Homo sapiens: one gene and its partner. The protein of the gene in region 2 binds, or shares a complex with, the protein of the main gene of each other region. Each region holds a gene or a part of one and is shown on either strand. Other genes may lie near its edges.

Region 1 (7,567 bases), on a different chromosome or scaffold from region 2:
CCTGGAGCCTGTGTCCTGCCCTGCTACAGTAGTGATTAATAGTGTCATGGTAGCTAAAGGAGAAAAAGGGGGTTTCGTTTACACGCTGTGAGATCACCGCAAACCTACCTTACTGTGTTGAAACGGGACAAATGCAATAGAACGCATTGGGTGGTGTGTGTCTGATCCTGGGTTCTTGTCTCCCCTAAATGCTGCCCCCCAAGTTACTGTATTTGTCTGGGCTTTGTAGGACTTCACTACGTTGATTGCTAGGTGGCCTAGTTTGTGTAAATATAATGTATTGGTCTTTCTCCGTGTTCTTTGGGGGTTTTGTTTACAAACTTCTTTTTGTATTGAGAGAAAAATAGCCAAAGCATCTTTGACAGAAGGTTCTGCACCAGGCAAAAAGATCTGAAACATTAGTTTGGGGGGCCCTCTTCTTAAAGTGGGGATCTTGAACCATCCTTTCTTTTGTATTCCCCTTCCCCTATTACCTATTAGACCAGATCTTCTGTCCTAAAAACTTGTCTTCTACCCTGCCCTCTTTTCTGTTCACCCCCAAAAGAAAACTTACACACCCACACACATACACATTTCATGCTTGGAGTGTCTCCACAACTCTTAAATGATGTATGCAAAAATACTGAAGCTAGGAAAACCCTCCATCCCTTGTTCCCAACCTCCTAAGTCAAGACCATTACCATTTCTTTCTTTCTTTTTTTTTTTTTTTTAAAATGGAGTCTCACTGTGTCACCCAGGCTGGAGTGCAGTGGCATGATCGGCTCACTGCAGCCTCTGCCTCTTGGGTTCAAGTGATTCTCCTGCCTCAGCCTCCTGAGTAGCTGGGATTTCAGGCACCCGCCACACTCAGCTAATTTTTGTATTTTTAGTAGAGACGGGGTTTCACCATGTTGTCCAGGCTGGTCTGGAACTCCTGACCTCAGGTGATCTGCCCACCTTGGCTTCCCAAAGTGCTGGGATTACAGGCATGAGCCACCATGCTGGGCCAACCATTTCTTGGTGTATTCATGCCAAACACTTAAGACACTGCTGTAGCCCAGGCGCGGTGGCTCACACCTGTAATCCCAGCACTTTGGAAGGCTGAGGCGGGCGGATCACAAGGTCACGAGTTCAAAACTATCCTGGCCAACACAGTGAAACCCCGTCTCTACTAAAATACAAAAAAATTAGCCGGGTGTGGTGGTGCATGCCTTTAGTCCTAGCTATTCAGGAGGCTGAGGCAGGGGAATCGCTTGAACCCGAGAGGCAGAGGTTGCAGTGAGCTGAGATCGCACCACTGCACTCCAGCCTGGTTACAGAGCAAGACTCTGTCTCAAACAAAACAAAACAAAACAAAAACACACTACTGTATTTTGGATGGATCAAACCTCCTTAATTTTAATTTCTAATCCTAAAGTAAAGAGATGCAATTGGGGGCCTTCCATGTAGAAAGTGGGGTCAGGAGGCCAAGAAAGGGAATATGAATGTATATCCAAGTCACTCAGGAACTTTTATGCAGGTGCTAGAAACTTTATGTCAAAGTGGCCACAAGATTGTTTAATAGGAGACGAACGAATGTAACTCCATGTTTACTGCTAAAAACCAAAGCTTTGTGTAAAATCTTGAATTTATGGGGCGGGAGGGTAGGAAAGCCTGTACCTGTCTGTTTTTTTCCTGATCCTTTTCCCTCATTCCTGAACTGCAGGAGACTGAGCCCCTTTGGGCTTTGGTGACCCCATCACTGGGGTGTGTTTATTTGATGGTTGATTTTGCTGTACTGGGTACTTCCTTTCCCATTTTCTAATCATTTTTTAACACAAGCTGACTCTTCCCTTCCCTTCTCCTTTCCCTGGGAAAATACAATGAATAAATAAAGACTTATTGGTACGCAAACTGTCATCCCCTTGTCAGATGTTTTTGCCCTTCCGATAACTCCCACTTTCTTGGATTGGGACTCAGAAGTTTTTCTGTTCAGCCAGTTTGTTAGGAATGAATCTTGAAAGTTCAGTCCTCTTAGCACCTCATTACAGTGGATTTTTGTTTCTAGTTAAGGCCTCTTGTCCTTTCCTTGGAAGCTTCCACATTCAAGAGGGGATTAGGGGCTTGGCATGCATAAGAATGGGGTTGCCTGTGCCACTGGCTGGGATGAAAGGATGGGGCCATGGCTTGGGGCATGAGACCCTAATAATACTTTGTCCCCTACTCCTCAAAGCCTTTTACAAATCTTAATTAATTAACCGCTTGCAGCACCCCAAGGAGAGAAATGTGTTGTGGAACTGGGGAAATTGAGGCCAGAGGAGATTCACTGACTAGCTATAAATGCAACATTTTCTTTGAGCCAAAGTTTGCTAGCTTTTTAATGAACATCGAGTTTTTTTATATACATCACAAGTCATCAAGCAAGAACACTGAATTTTAAACATCTATTCCCACTAAGGGAAGGAGGATTTTAAAAAGGAAAAAAAAAAAACTTGATTGGAGGCAAACCAAGTATATTAACACCGTGCAAGGAAACAGGGAAACTGGTTTAAATCCTCAAGCCTGACATTATAAGAGTAAGGGTAAGAAGTTTCATAATCTACTCCAGGGACTTTGTGGCTCCTTAATTGTACCAAAAGTCAAAGCTGACAGTAGAACCTCATGAAGCAGCAAACTACTAGTGGACTTCATTAAATTGTCTTGCTGCAAAATGAAGTAACTTGGACTGAAATTTACTCCCCAGGCTGCAAAGCAGGAAGGATGGAAAAGCTCAACACTATTCATTTCTACTCATCTCTAGGGCTTTCTTTCATCATGTTGCTGTGTTAAAATAACCCCTTTCATTAGAAAGAGTGGAAGACATAATCAATTAGAAAGTGCCAATAAAACATCTCTTCCTTGCCTCATTTCTTTAATAATATTGTAAAATGAAATGCGACAAAAAGGTTCTTTGACAATTGTGAATTTTTATTCCACTCAAAACATAATACTACATAAAGTTGTATTATGCTTTGCAAGAAATACTGGTTGTGGCCGGGCGCGGTGGCTCACGCCTGTAATTCCAGCACTTTGGAAGGTCTAGGCAGGCAGATAACGAGGTCAAGAGATCAAAACCATCCTGGCCAAAATGGTGAAACCCTGTCTCTACTAAAAATACAAAAATTAGCCAGGCTTGGTGGCACGCGCCTGTAGTCCCAGCTACTCAGGAGGATGAAGCAGGAGAAACGCTTGAACCCGGGAGGCGGAGGCTGCAGTGAGCCGAGATCGCGCCACTGCACTCCAGCCTGGGCGACATAGCCAGACTCCGTCTCTAAATAAATAAATAAATAAATAAATAAATAAAAATAATACTGGTTGTATAAGAATCTGTAAAGAATTTTTTCCTCCTCTTTCAATTTTGAGAAAATTGAACTACAAATTTGTTTTGTGAGCCTAGAATTCTTGCAACCCTTTTTTTCGTAAAGGTTCAGTAGAGCTAATGCCCTTAACTTTTCTACCAGGGTTAATTTCTGTTATTTTCATTTATGTACTGCCAAAGCGAGCACCTTTCTGTTATTTTAGAAGTCATGCTTTTTTTTTTTTTCTTTTTTCAGACAGAGTTTCGCTCCTGTTGCCCAGGCTGGAGTGCAGTGGCCTGATCTTGGCTCACCGCAACCTCCGCCTCCCGGGTTCAAGCGATTCTCTTGCCTCACCCTCCCGAGTAACTGGGATAACAGGCGCCCGCCACCACGCCCGGCTCATTTTCTGTATTTTTAGTACAGACGGGGTTTCACGATGTTGGTCAGGCTGGTCTCAAACTCCTGACCTCAGGTGATCCGTTCGCCTCGGCCTCCCAAAGTGCTGGGATTACAGGCGTGAGCCACCGCGCCTGGCCTAGAAGTCATTCTTATGGCAGAAATCTTTCTGGCCTTACCCCTTCTCTTGAGTTCGTTGGGATAGGTCTTGGGAATCCACAAATCCTAAAATATGCGTGCCTTAAGTCGGCACAAAATAGATTAATATTCTGCGCGTCTGTAAGATTGGCTGCGGCTAGAAACTCCTTCCCAGACGATTAAATCCACTAAATAAAATACGAAACGGTAACGAGATAATTTTTAAGAGTATGCACCAGTGCTCTAATGAAGCCCGGTTCTGCGGCATTCCAAGGTAAGGACGCTGCCTTACCCAGTCTCTCAGCAGTCCTAAGCTGCCTTCGACGGCCGAGAAGCGCCTCGATTCTTGCCCCTGGCTCATTTCCCTGGCGCGTTTTCCAGACGCCTCCGCTCCCAACGCTGGGCTCAACCCTGTCTTCCCCAGCTGGTCTCCCAGCACGTGGCCTGGAGCCCAGCCTCCCGCCCCGCTCGGTCACGTGAGCCTGGCTCTCACCCGCGCCGGCTTCCACACCCCGCGGGACTGAGAACCGCCCTCCCACTAGCTCGCAGGCGCAGGCGCAGGGCAGGGTCCCCTCAGTTTGGGTGACGGAAGGGGCGTGTCGCAGCGCCCAAAGATGACGTGTTCTGCCAGCGCCACGTCATGAGGAAGTGCCGGCCCACTGAAGCCGTGGGGACGCGCCCAGCGGAGCTAATCAGGTGCCACTGAACTGAAGGGGTGAACTAGAGGAGAAGAGGGTGACTGGGCGGGGAGCAGCTGCGGGAGAAGCAAAGGGACGACTGAGGGAATAATCAGGAGACCACTGAGGCGTGAAGTACTAGGCGTGCGATAACTGAAGGAGTTAGTAACTGGGAGCACAGAGTTGGAAACAGCTTAGGGGAAGATGGAGAAGGAAGAAACGGGGAATGATCAAGATGTGGGCACCATGATGTGGCAGGAAACCGACTTAGATGTTCAGAAGAAGTCAGTGCAGATACGGAGGAAATGGGAATGGGAAGAAGTCTGCAAAGCCAGGAGAACCGAGGAAAGGCTTTTGCCTCCAGAGGTCACATTGCGTTATAAAACTCTGGGTGGTAAAAGATTATAGGCTTAGACCAGTGTCTTTGGATTCTAATGCTGGCTGCTCTCCATAGTCCATCTGATTCCCCAGAAGTCAGTTATAGCTCTTCGCAAACCTTGGTGACTTCTTATTTTCTTTCTTGTTTATCCAAGATTACCTGGCTGGTGTTTGCTTGTTCTGGAGTGATCTTCTGACTGGAAAAGAACTATGTCATGGATCAAGGAAGGAGAGCTGTCACTTTGGGAGCGGTTCTGTGCCAACATCATAAAGGTGAGCAATGGCCCAGAGCACCGGTTGGCCTTCTGGTCAGTTGGATAATCTTATATAAAAACCTGTTATTAAAGTTGATGATGTTAAGTGCAATTCATGATGTTAAGTGGAATTTAGCAAGGAAACCAAAGAGTCTTAGAATGGTAACTTCCAGGTCTACATTTCTGGTAGACTTTTGTCCTAACTCTGATATTTTCTGGAAGCCCAGGCCTCTTAATGTCACTGGGCAGCCTAGACTGCTAAGTATTCTTTATAGAGAACTGAAATTTGTTTCCCTGGAACATTGATCCATTGTTCCATGTACTGTCTTCTTGATTTAAATAGGTTAATCTTTGATATATTCTTTGATCTGTCAGTAGAGCTGGGCCCGGTCACTCACGCCTGTAATCCCAGCAATTTGGGAGGCTGAGGTGGGCAGATTGTTTGAGCTCAGGAGTTGAGACCAGCCTGGGCAACATGGCAAAACCCCGATTCTCCAAAAAATTAAAAAAATAGCAGGGCTTGGTGGTGTGCACCTGTAGTCCCAGCTACTCGGAAGGCTGAAGTGGGAGAATTTCTTGAGCCCAGGTCAAAGCTGCAGTGAGTCATGATTGTGCCACCACACTCCAGCCTGGGTGACAGAACGGGACTGTCTCAAAAAAAAGAGTTCAGAACAAGACTCTGTCTCAAAAAAAAAAAAAAAAAAAGAGTTTGGGCTCTAGACGCAGACAAACATGGGTGAAATTCCTGTTCTTTTTTTTATTTTGAGATGGAGTCTCGCTCTGTCGCCCAGGCTGGAGTGCAATGGCGCAATCTTGGCTTACTGCAACCTTCATCTGCCAAGTTCAAGCAATTCTCTTGCCTTAGCCTCCCAAGTAGCTGGGGTTACAGGCATATGCTACCACACATGGCTAATTTTTATATTTTTAGTAGAGATGGGATTCTCATATTGGCCAGGCTGGTCTCGAACTCCTGACCTCAGGTGATCCACCTATCTCAGCCTCCCAAAGTGCTGGGATTATAGGACTGAGCCACTGCACCTGGCCTGAAAGTCCAGTTCTATCATTTAGTAATCATGTGACTTTAACAACTGTAGAATTATCATGAGAATTTATGAGACATTAATATAAAGCAGTTAGCATAATGTCTAGCAGTTCTTAATTATTATTAGGATTGTCTTTCAGACATTTGAAGACTATTATCTCCTATCTTCCCCAAATCTTCCCTCAGCTTTTTCTCTAGGAATCACAGCAATATTATATCTGCCTAAGACAGGTTTGAGATTGGGGCCAGTCAGCTTGGTTTTGTTTTTCAACCACAGGCTGTCAAGCAGCAGGTAGTAATGAATTTATGAGTCAGTAACCTTTATACAAGCCCCACACATGCTCACAAACAAATGCCAAGTGATCTCAAGCAGTCCAGGAAATGGGAAGTATCTCCTTGGGGAACCACTGCAGTGGTATGTTTGGAAGAACAAGCTGCATAACTTGAATGGATTTTGGGGGCTGGAAAGGCTGTATGTGAGACAGAAGTAGAAAAAGGAGAAGTGTTGATGAGGAAGCAGTCAGGGAAGAGCCCTCCCAGGTGAGGAAAAATAGGCTAAGGAGTCCATTTGTGTTATGGGAGACAACTCAAAGCTGCTCCAAGCCAAATAAGGGTTTTGTTTTTTGTGGTTTCTTTTTTGAGATGCAGTCTTACTCTGTTGCCCAGGCTAGAGTGCAGTGGTGCAGTCTTGGCTTACTGCAACCTCTGTCTCCTGGGTTCAAGCGATTCTCCCACCTCAGCCTCCCCAAGTAGCTGGGATTATAGGCACCGGCCACCATGCCTGGCTAATTTTTTTTTTTTTTTTTTTTAGTAGAGTTGGGGTTTCACCATGTTGGCCAGGCTGGTCTCGAACTCCTGGCCTCAAGTGATCTGCCCACCTCAGCCTCCTAAAGTACTGGGATTACAGGCTTGAGCCACCACGTCCGGCCCCAAGTAAGTTTTGTTTGGCTCAAAAAAAGTCTTTTTTGTTTGCTTTGAAAAACAATTTTTTTTTTTCAGACAGAGTCTCACTCTGTCGCCCAGGCTGGAGTGCAGTGGCACAATCTCAGCTCACTGTACCCTCTGCCTCCCCGGTTCAAACAATTCTCCTGCCTCAGCCTCCCGAGTAGCTGGGATTACAGGCGCTCGCCACCACGCCCGGCTAATTTTTCTTTATTTTTAGTAGAGACAGGGTTTCACCATTTTGGCCAGGCTGGTCTTAAACTCCTGACCTCGTGATCCACCCGCCTCGGCCTCCCAAAGTGCTGGGATTACAGGCATGAGCCACTGCGCCCGGCTGAAAAGCAAAATTTTAATAAAAATCCTGATGTTTGGTTTTCTTGCAAGATCACCAGATCCAGCAATGTTGTGCCCCAGTTCCTGTGTGTCAGCAGTTGGCTAGAGGTC
Region 2 (7,273 bases):
CAGTGAAAGGGCTTACAGGATTTTGTATCTTAACTGTAAAATCAGTTTTTTTGTTTGTTTTTTTTAAAAGAATAAGAAATATTCCTGAAATAAGAGACCTTCAATTAGTCCATTCTTGGTTTTGATTCGTTCATACATTCATTTACAGGTGACAGTTGGGGTCTGTTAAGTACCAGATACTCTTCCAGACATGGGAATGCAGCAGTGTACTCATGGAACTTAGATTTCAGTGGGAGTCTGACAAATAATATACGTGGGTAAATATGTGGTAATGTAAGTGCAATGAGGAAAAGTAAAGCAGAGAAGGGAAGATAGGAATGTTGAAAGTCAGTGGTGTAGGAAGGGGTACAGTTTTAAATAGGGAGGCCAAGGAGAGGCTCTTTGAATATAGACTTGAAAATATAGGCCATGTGGATATGTAAGAATCACTCAGAGGGAGTATAGACATGTAAGCTTTATTTAGTGTTTCTTTTTCAGTGGTTTTTTTTTTTTTTTTTTTTTGAGACGGAGTCTCGCTCTGTCACCCAGGCTGGAGTGCAGTGGTGTAATCTAGGCTCACTGCAACCTCCGTCTCCCAGATTCAAGTTCTCCTGTCTCAGCCTCCCCAAGTAGCTGGGACTACAGGTGATGCGCGCCACCCCGCCCTGCTAATTTTTGTATTTTCAGTAGAGACAGGGTTTTGCCATATTGGCCAGGCTGGTCTCAAACTCCTGACCTCAGGTGATCTGCCTGCCTCAGCCTCCCAAAGTGCTGGGATTACAGGTGTGAGCCACTGCGCCCGGCCATATTCAGTGTTTCTAAATAAATGTCTATTTAAGCTTATTTCTAGATAGATATTTAACTATGAAAAATCCTATTGACATACTCGTAAATGCCACTGGGATACAAGAAGTACAAGAAATGGTGTCTCTTAAAGAGTTTCCACTCAAGTAAGGATGTCCATTAAAAATTAACACAAGCTAATATAGAAATGCTAAGTGAATGGCAGATACTTTAAGGAGCGAAAAATGGAAAATTTCCCGGGTTACCTCCATATTTGTCTGGTAAGGAAGGGAGCAACACCTGAGCTGGACCTAGTCAAAAAGATAGAATTGGGATTGGCGTGAACAGTGTTCTCTGTGTGTGTGAATGGGGATTTCCCTAATGGCAGCATTCTCATTAGACTAGGTTCAGTAATAGCATTGAGTAGAGTGTTGGGAGCAGTGAATTTATGTAATGAACAGTTGGGAAATGAGGTAGGATGAAGGCTTGGACAGCTATTCTGGTTACCTACTGCTTTGTAGAAATCTACCCAAAGCATAGTGTTTTAAAACAACAATTTATATATTGACTTAGTTCAGTTGGGCAGTTTTTCCTTTGGGTCACTCATAGCTTTCATTCAGATAGAGTCTGGGACCCAAAGGTTTCTCCTTATGTCTGGTGCCTGGTTTTTGATGGCTGAAATAGATGGGGCAGGTTGGTCATCTGGCTTCACATGGTCTGGAGGTTGACTTCAGGGTAACCAGTTAACTAACTTCCCCCAGAACAAATGTTTCCAGAGACTTGGCCAAAGGCTGAAGCTGAAAGATGTCTTAGGACCTAACCTAGGAAATCATGCAGTGTTATTTTTGCTATGTTCTCTTGGTCAGAGAAGTCTCACATCTGTTCTGCATCAAGAAAGTGGAGAAATGGACTTCACCTCTCAATGAGAAAATGGCTTGTGTAGAAAGGTTGGGTGAGGATTTGAAGGGAGATGGACGGGCAGCCACTTTGAAGACAAGCTTACCACCTTACATTTTATTCTGTCCTACACCCCTTTGCTCTCAAATTTGTACTTAAATTCGTTCTAATTATGGTTGGATCTAGATAACAACATTTAATCCTTAGACTAAAAGATCTATTATATTGACCTTAATTTGACTGCCAGCAAACTGATCTTTTTGTTTTTCACTACCTGCAATATTTCTTGATTATAATAGAGTCTGCAAGTAATTCTTTCATCTTTCAAAAATTCAGGTTGTTCTCTCAGGACAGTGATCAGGAATTTTTTGAGTTCAGAATTCTAGCGAGATTTGGCTGTTCTGTCTATATGATTATAATTTAAGAAATGACCATAACTGGGATGGTACAAGAACCAGGGGTTGGGGTAAATGGATTTTATTGTTCTAGCCTTAGCAGTGTTGTTTGCCTGTGTCTCACATGCAGGTACACTTGGCTCCAAGTTATCTGGATATGTATTGTTATCTTAAGTGATGGAACTTGTTCTTATTTCCTGGCTTTATTGTGCCTTGCTGGGAACCTTGCTGTTGATTGGTATTTTTCAAAACCTGTCTGTGGACCATCTGTGAATTAGTCATTGGGGATGCTTATAAAAAATGCAGATTCAACACACTTAGTAATCAAACTTAATGAGGGAACTGGGACCTGGGCGTCTCTGTTTTTATCAAGCTACCTGTATGATACTTCTGCACACTGAAGTTTAACCCTAACACAGATCAAAGGATACTCTGCTACTTGCCTTACATTAGATTATTTATATTTCATGTTCCTTTTCATGATTGAGGATAATTTGGGGTAAGCCTTAGGATTATTTGCTGTAAATTGGAATGATCCAGAATAAGGCATTGCCTTCTGTGTGAGAATTCAACAGTAAGACAACAAATTTTTTTTGTGTGCTGCTCTTTCTAGTGCTATTTCCTTAGTTTATTTAAATCGAAGCTAGGTTGCTTTTGAAATGGTTTTTGGGTACAGGTTTCTCACAGTAACATTTTAAAAGTCTGCCCAGTGTATCCTATCTTTTCAACCTGTTTCTCAATGCTTTGCATACCTTTTGCTATGTCTGTATTTAGGTATTTAATGTTCCAGTTTCCTGGAACTCCCTCTTCTCCTTTTTCTGGCAAATGGCTGTATGCCTACCAAGAGGCTATTGTTCATCTTTTCCGAGTCAATCCTAAATATCACCTTGTATATTTTTGCCTTTCTTGACTATTCACTCCGTTCCCTATCTTACTATATCTCTGAATCTCCTCAGAACTTCAAACATCTCTAAAGGTACTTCTGTTCTCTGCTTTGTGTAGTCATATTTGTATGTATATGTGCATAAACTTTCTTACTAGATTATAAGCTCCACAGATGCTATCCATCCTTCTCATTTTTGCTTTTCTTACAGAGTGTATCTTGGTGTTATGCATGTAATGAATAGTTAATATGTGTTCCTTGAATTCAAAGAAGGGCCGCATTTCCTGTAGATAAGAATAATGAACTGAGTTGCACTCTCTGCTTCCCAACACAATACCCAGAAGCCTTAAAGTAATGGAGGAAAATGAACATAGTTTACCCTAGTTTACTTAGTTGGCACAGTGACACAGATGCTATTGAGAAGTATGATTTTCTTAAGTTTATTCTCCTTATGTTGAAATACAGAGGTGCCGGAAATGTTGAAAGTCTAAATATAAATGTGATTACATTTGACATACTGAATAGTACAACCTAGTGTTTATCTTCCCTCATGTGGAAACTCATGTAAGGGAGCATTCTATTCTTAATCTCTACCTTTGTGTAGTTGACTTTTTGTACAGTTTCACATTTATCTTAACATCCTGAAATGTCCTCTTCACCTTTTTCTGGCAAAGGGCTAGCTACCTGTCAAAAGACTGTTGATTCTTTTCTTTTTTGACATGGAGTCTGGCTCTGTCGCCCAGGCTGGAGTGCAGTGGTGCGATCTCGGCTCACTGCGACCTCTGCCTCCGGGGTTCAAGCTATTCTCCTGCCTCAGCCTCCTGAGTAACTGGGATTACAGGCATATGCCACCATGCCCACCTAATTTTTTGTATTTTTAGTAGAGATGGGGTTTCACCATGTTGGCCAGGCTGGTCTTGAACTCCTGGCCTCAAGATCCACCTGCCTCAGCCTCCCAAAGTGCTGGGATTACAGGTGTGAGCCACCGTGCCCAGCTTGTTGATTCTTGTAAGTTCATCCTAACTATCATCTCTGAAGTAGCCTCTCTCGACTGTTCCATCCCCAGTCTTACTCTGTCTTTGAAAAATTCTATCCTGCTTTTGTTAACTTTTTAAATGACTTTATTCTCTATGTACCCTTTTGTTTAACTATAGTACTGGATCTGTGTATTAAAGTAAACCTTTGCTGAGTGTGGTGGCTCATGCCTGTAATCCCAGCAGTTTAGGAGGCTGACATGGGAGGATTGCTTGAGCCCAGGAGTTTAAGACCAGCCTGGGGAATATAGTGAGACCCGCATCTCTGAAAAATAAAAATAGAAAATGAGCTAGACATGGTGTGTGCCTGTAGTCCCAACTACTCAGGAGGCTGAGGTGGGAGGATTACTTGAGTCCTGGAGGTTGGGGCTACAGTGAACCATGGTTGCACCACTGTACTCTAGCCGGGGTGAGACCCTGCCTCAATCAATCAATCAATAAATCAAACCTGTATCTTAAGCGTAATAATTATCCTTTGTTGAACTTTTAGTCTGTACTGGATACTATAGAAAAGTGCCTTAAGTCATTAGCAGTTTTACAGATAAACTGAGATTTAAAAAGCCAGGTTCCAAATCTAGTAAGGAGCAGATCTAGAATTTGAACCAGATTTTTATTCTAGAGCTTTTGTGCTTAACCGTTACATTATTTTGATTTCCACTGGTAAAAGAATGTGACGACAGTAGTCACTTTTAGTACTGTTTCTGATTCTTTTGGGTCATCTTCAAGCTTTGGTAAACAGGCACTTATCTACAGGTTATAGAAATTATTTGTAAAAGATATTTAAAGACTAATAGAGATTTCTTCATCCCACTAGTGTACATGTTCATCCTTTGAGTTATAGGACACATTTTTTAAAAAACCAGCTAAAAATTTAATGTTATGGTGCTCCAGCTTTGTGTTGAGCTGTTAGTTTGTCAGGTGAGCAGATTCTGTAAATATATTCTCATTTTAAAAATGTCCAACAAGATGCCGAAAAAACCCACATGGATTGTTCATTTTACATATCTCTTGTGCTGACAAGCTAGGACTTAAATCTAGCCCTCATTTTGTTATATACTTTGTCACCATTACACATACCTGTTCTCTTACTACAGCACTGCAGTATAATTTTCTACAGTATAATTGTTGTTCTGTGAGGTGTCCTGAAGGGCTCTCTCCTGAAATAAAATAGCTTAATGGCCTATGTATTTTGTTATGATTTATTTTCTTATGACTACTTCAGTCATGTAAAATTTTAATGGTAGATTTTTTTCATTTTAAATAATTGCTCCATAAATATATGTTTTCTTCTCTGAAGATTGCTCTCTAGTCGTTTTATAATTGAGTTGTTAGAGGTAACTTAGGTGACTAGTTTAAAAAGAAAAAGAGGTAGGCCAATTTTTAGAACAGGCATTTATTTATAAATAGAGATTACTTTAATTCCATAACCAGTGAAGTGCTTAATAATGAGGAGAGATTGTTTCAATGCTTATCTCATTTTTTTCTCTTGTTTGTTCTTGTAAGTACTTGCTATTATTTCTTAAAAAGTCTGTTTCTGTAGAAGGGAATAAATAATCACAGTAAAAATTCCAGTTTCAGATTTAAAAGAGATAGTAAATGTATTTTAAAAGTCTCATTTTATAGACTTGATTATACATTTCACATACCTTTTAAAATAATCAGTATTTGAGGAATGCAGATAAGATTTGCTGATGGAATACTTGTCTAATTAAACTCCTTGTGACTTGGTTCCCTTAATTTAAAAAAAGTATGCATGTCATGACTTTATTATTCAGTTAATGTGTAAGACTGAATACAGTATGTAACCTAGTAGGTAGATTAGGCAAATTAACTTCTACTCTACTCTGTTTTCTTCTAATCCATATGTGTGGCTTCTCCTCTGTTGTACTTCCAAATGTTGTGGTGTCCTAGAGTTTGGAGCTGTATGTATGCCTTTGTCTTTCTGTTACTCACTTTGTTGCAACTACTCAACTCTGCTAGTGTAGTCAAAAATGGCCATAAGCAAATGTGGCTGTTTTCCATAGCAGTAGTTTGCTGACCCCTGTCCTGCAGATAATCTCCCCAATCCCATGGATTTAAATGTCACGTGTGTGCTGACACACAGGTTTGGGCTGGAAATACAGTCCTGATATCTCCCATAATTCCAGACTTCTATATCTAACTCCTTGTCTAAAATAATTTATTAGGTCAATCCTATGCCTTGTATGTCTAAAACAGTACTTTTTGAGACCTAATCCTTGTTTTAGTCTCCATTGCAGCCATCCAAGTTTAAATTACCATTGTTCTTTCACCTGGATTACTGTAGTAGCCTCCTAATTGATCTCCATTTTTCTATCCTGGTCCCTGTATAATCCATTCTTCACCTACCAGCGAGGTGATCTTTTTTTGATGGCATCATTTGGACTGAATAAAACCCTCCAACAGCTTCTCGTTGTAGTTGGAATGCTTTCGAAATTCATTACCAAGGCCCACAGGCCCCTTCATGTTACGGCCACTGCTGACATTTCTGGTGTCCATATGATACTCTACTTTCCTCGAATGTGATGAGAAACCTGACTGCTGAGAGAATATGCAATAGAGTGATTCCTATAATAGCAATCACCTGGGGAAGTATTGATTTTTATATTTTAAGAACTGAAAAAAACAGCAAAAAACTTTTTGTTTAATACAGTTGTTAAAATAATCATGAGACTAGCACCAAGGAAGGATACATATTACACAAGTAAAAAAAGCAGGATACAAATTGCATAATCATATACACTAGGATTACATATGCATGTGGACAAAGACTAGAAAATATTGAGAAGTCGAAATAGTTGTGTTACAATGGTAAGGTTAGGGACATTCCAGTAGTTATGGGGAAGGTTAGGGAACATTCCCTTATTATCTAAACATTGAACATCTTATTTTTTAAGACTAGAATTTAAAACAAATGTTTCTTAGAATCTAAAATGAAGTCTTCATTTGGCCCCCAAAATGCATACCTGCTGTTTATTAAGAAATAACAAAAGCATGGTAGTCTTTCTGAGGTATAACTTTGCTAGAATAATATTCTTCTTTCACGGAAGTTGAAGATTTTGTGGTTTTACTTTTATTTTTTTCAACTTTTATTGTAGATTCAAAGGATATGTGTGCAGTTTCCTTACTTTGGAAATTGAAGATTTTCTCGTGTGTGTTTTGTCATAATGGCTATTTGATATATCTTTTCTTTCTTTCTTTTTTTTTTTAGAGACAGGGTCTTACTTTGTTGCCCAGGCTGGAGTGCAGTGGTGCGATCATAGTTAACTGCAGCCTTGAACTCC

The links. The genes of interacting proteins can lie anywhere in the genome.
Region 1: the proteins of NUS1 (region 2) and DHDDS are in contact, whole or in part, in a crystal structure (PDB 7PAX), measured with the Homo sapiens proteins. Residues at the interface, in NP_612468.1 of Homo sapiens: His137, Gln138, Pro193, Glu194, Lys197, Ala198, Ile200, Val201, Ala204, Gln205, Phe207, Cys208, Gln209, Val211, Ala212, Arg217, Pro218, Thr219, Leu221, Asp222, Val223, Leu226, Asp237, Pro246, Val247, Asp248, Ser249, Thr250, Leu251, Gly252; in NP_995583.1 of Homo sapiens: Arg37, Arg38, Glu81, Asn82, Lys84, Arg85, Arg159, His160, Ile162, Ser163, Val166, Arg167, Met169, Ala170, Trp171, Val173, Glu174, Pro180, Ser181, Ile183, Ser184, Glu185, Leu188, His199, Glu209, Val210, Arg211, Leu212, Ser213, Asp214.

The regions. Positions count from the first base shown.
Region 1 is NC_000001.11:26,427,851-26,435,417, forward strand, and holds the start of DHDDS (dehydrodolichyl diphosphate synthase complex subunit DHDDS), read left to right. Parts: upstream 1-4,470; 5' UTR 4,471-4,526; exon of another isoform or gene 4,527-4,668; intron 4,669-5,040; 5' UTR 5,041-5,095; coding exon 5,096-5,158; intron 5,159-7,567. UniProt on the Homo sapiens protein: With NUS1, forms the dehydrodolichyl diphosphate synthase (DDS) complex, an essential component of the dolichol monophosphate (Dol-P) biosynthetic machinery.
Region 2 is NC_000006.12:117,678,198-117,685,470, forward strand, and holds part of NUS1 (dehydrodolichyl diphosphate synthase complex subunit NUS1), read left to right. Parts: intron 1-7,273. UniProt on the Homo sapiens protein: With DHDDS, forms the dehydrodolichyl diphosphate synthase (DDS) complex, an essential component of the dolichol monophosphate (Dol-P) biosynthetic machinery.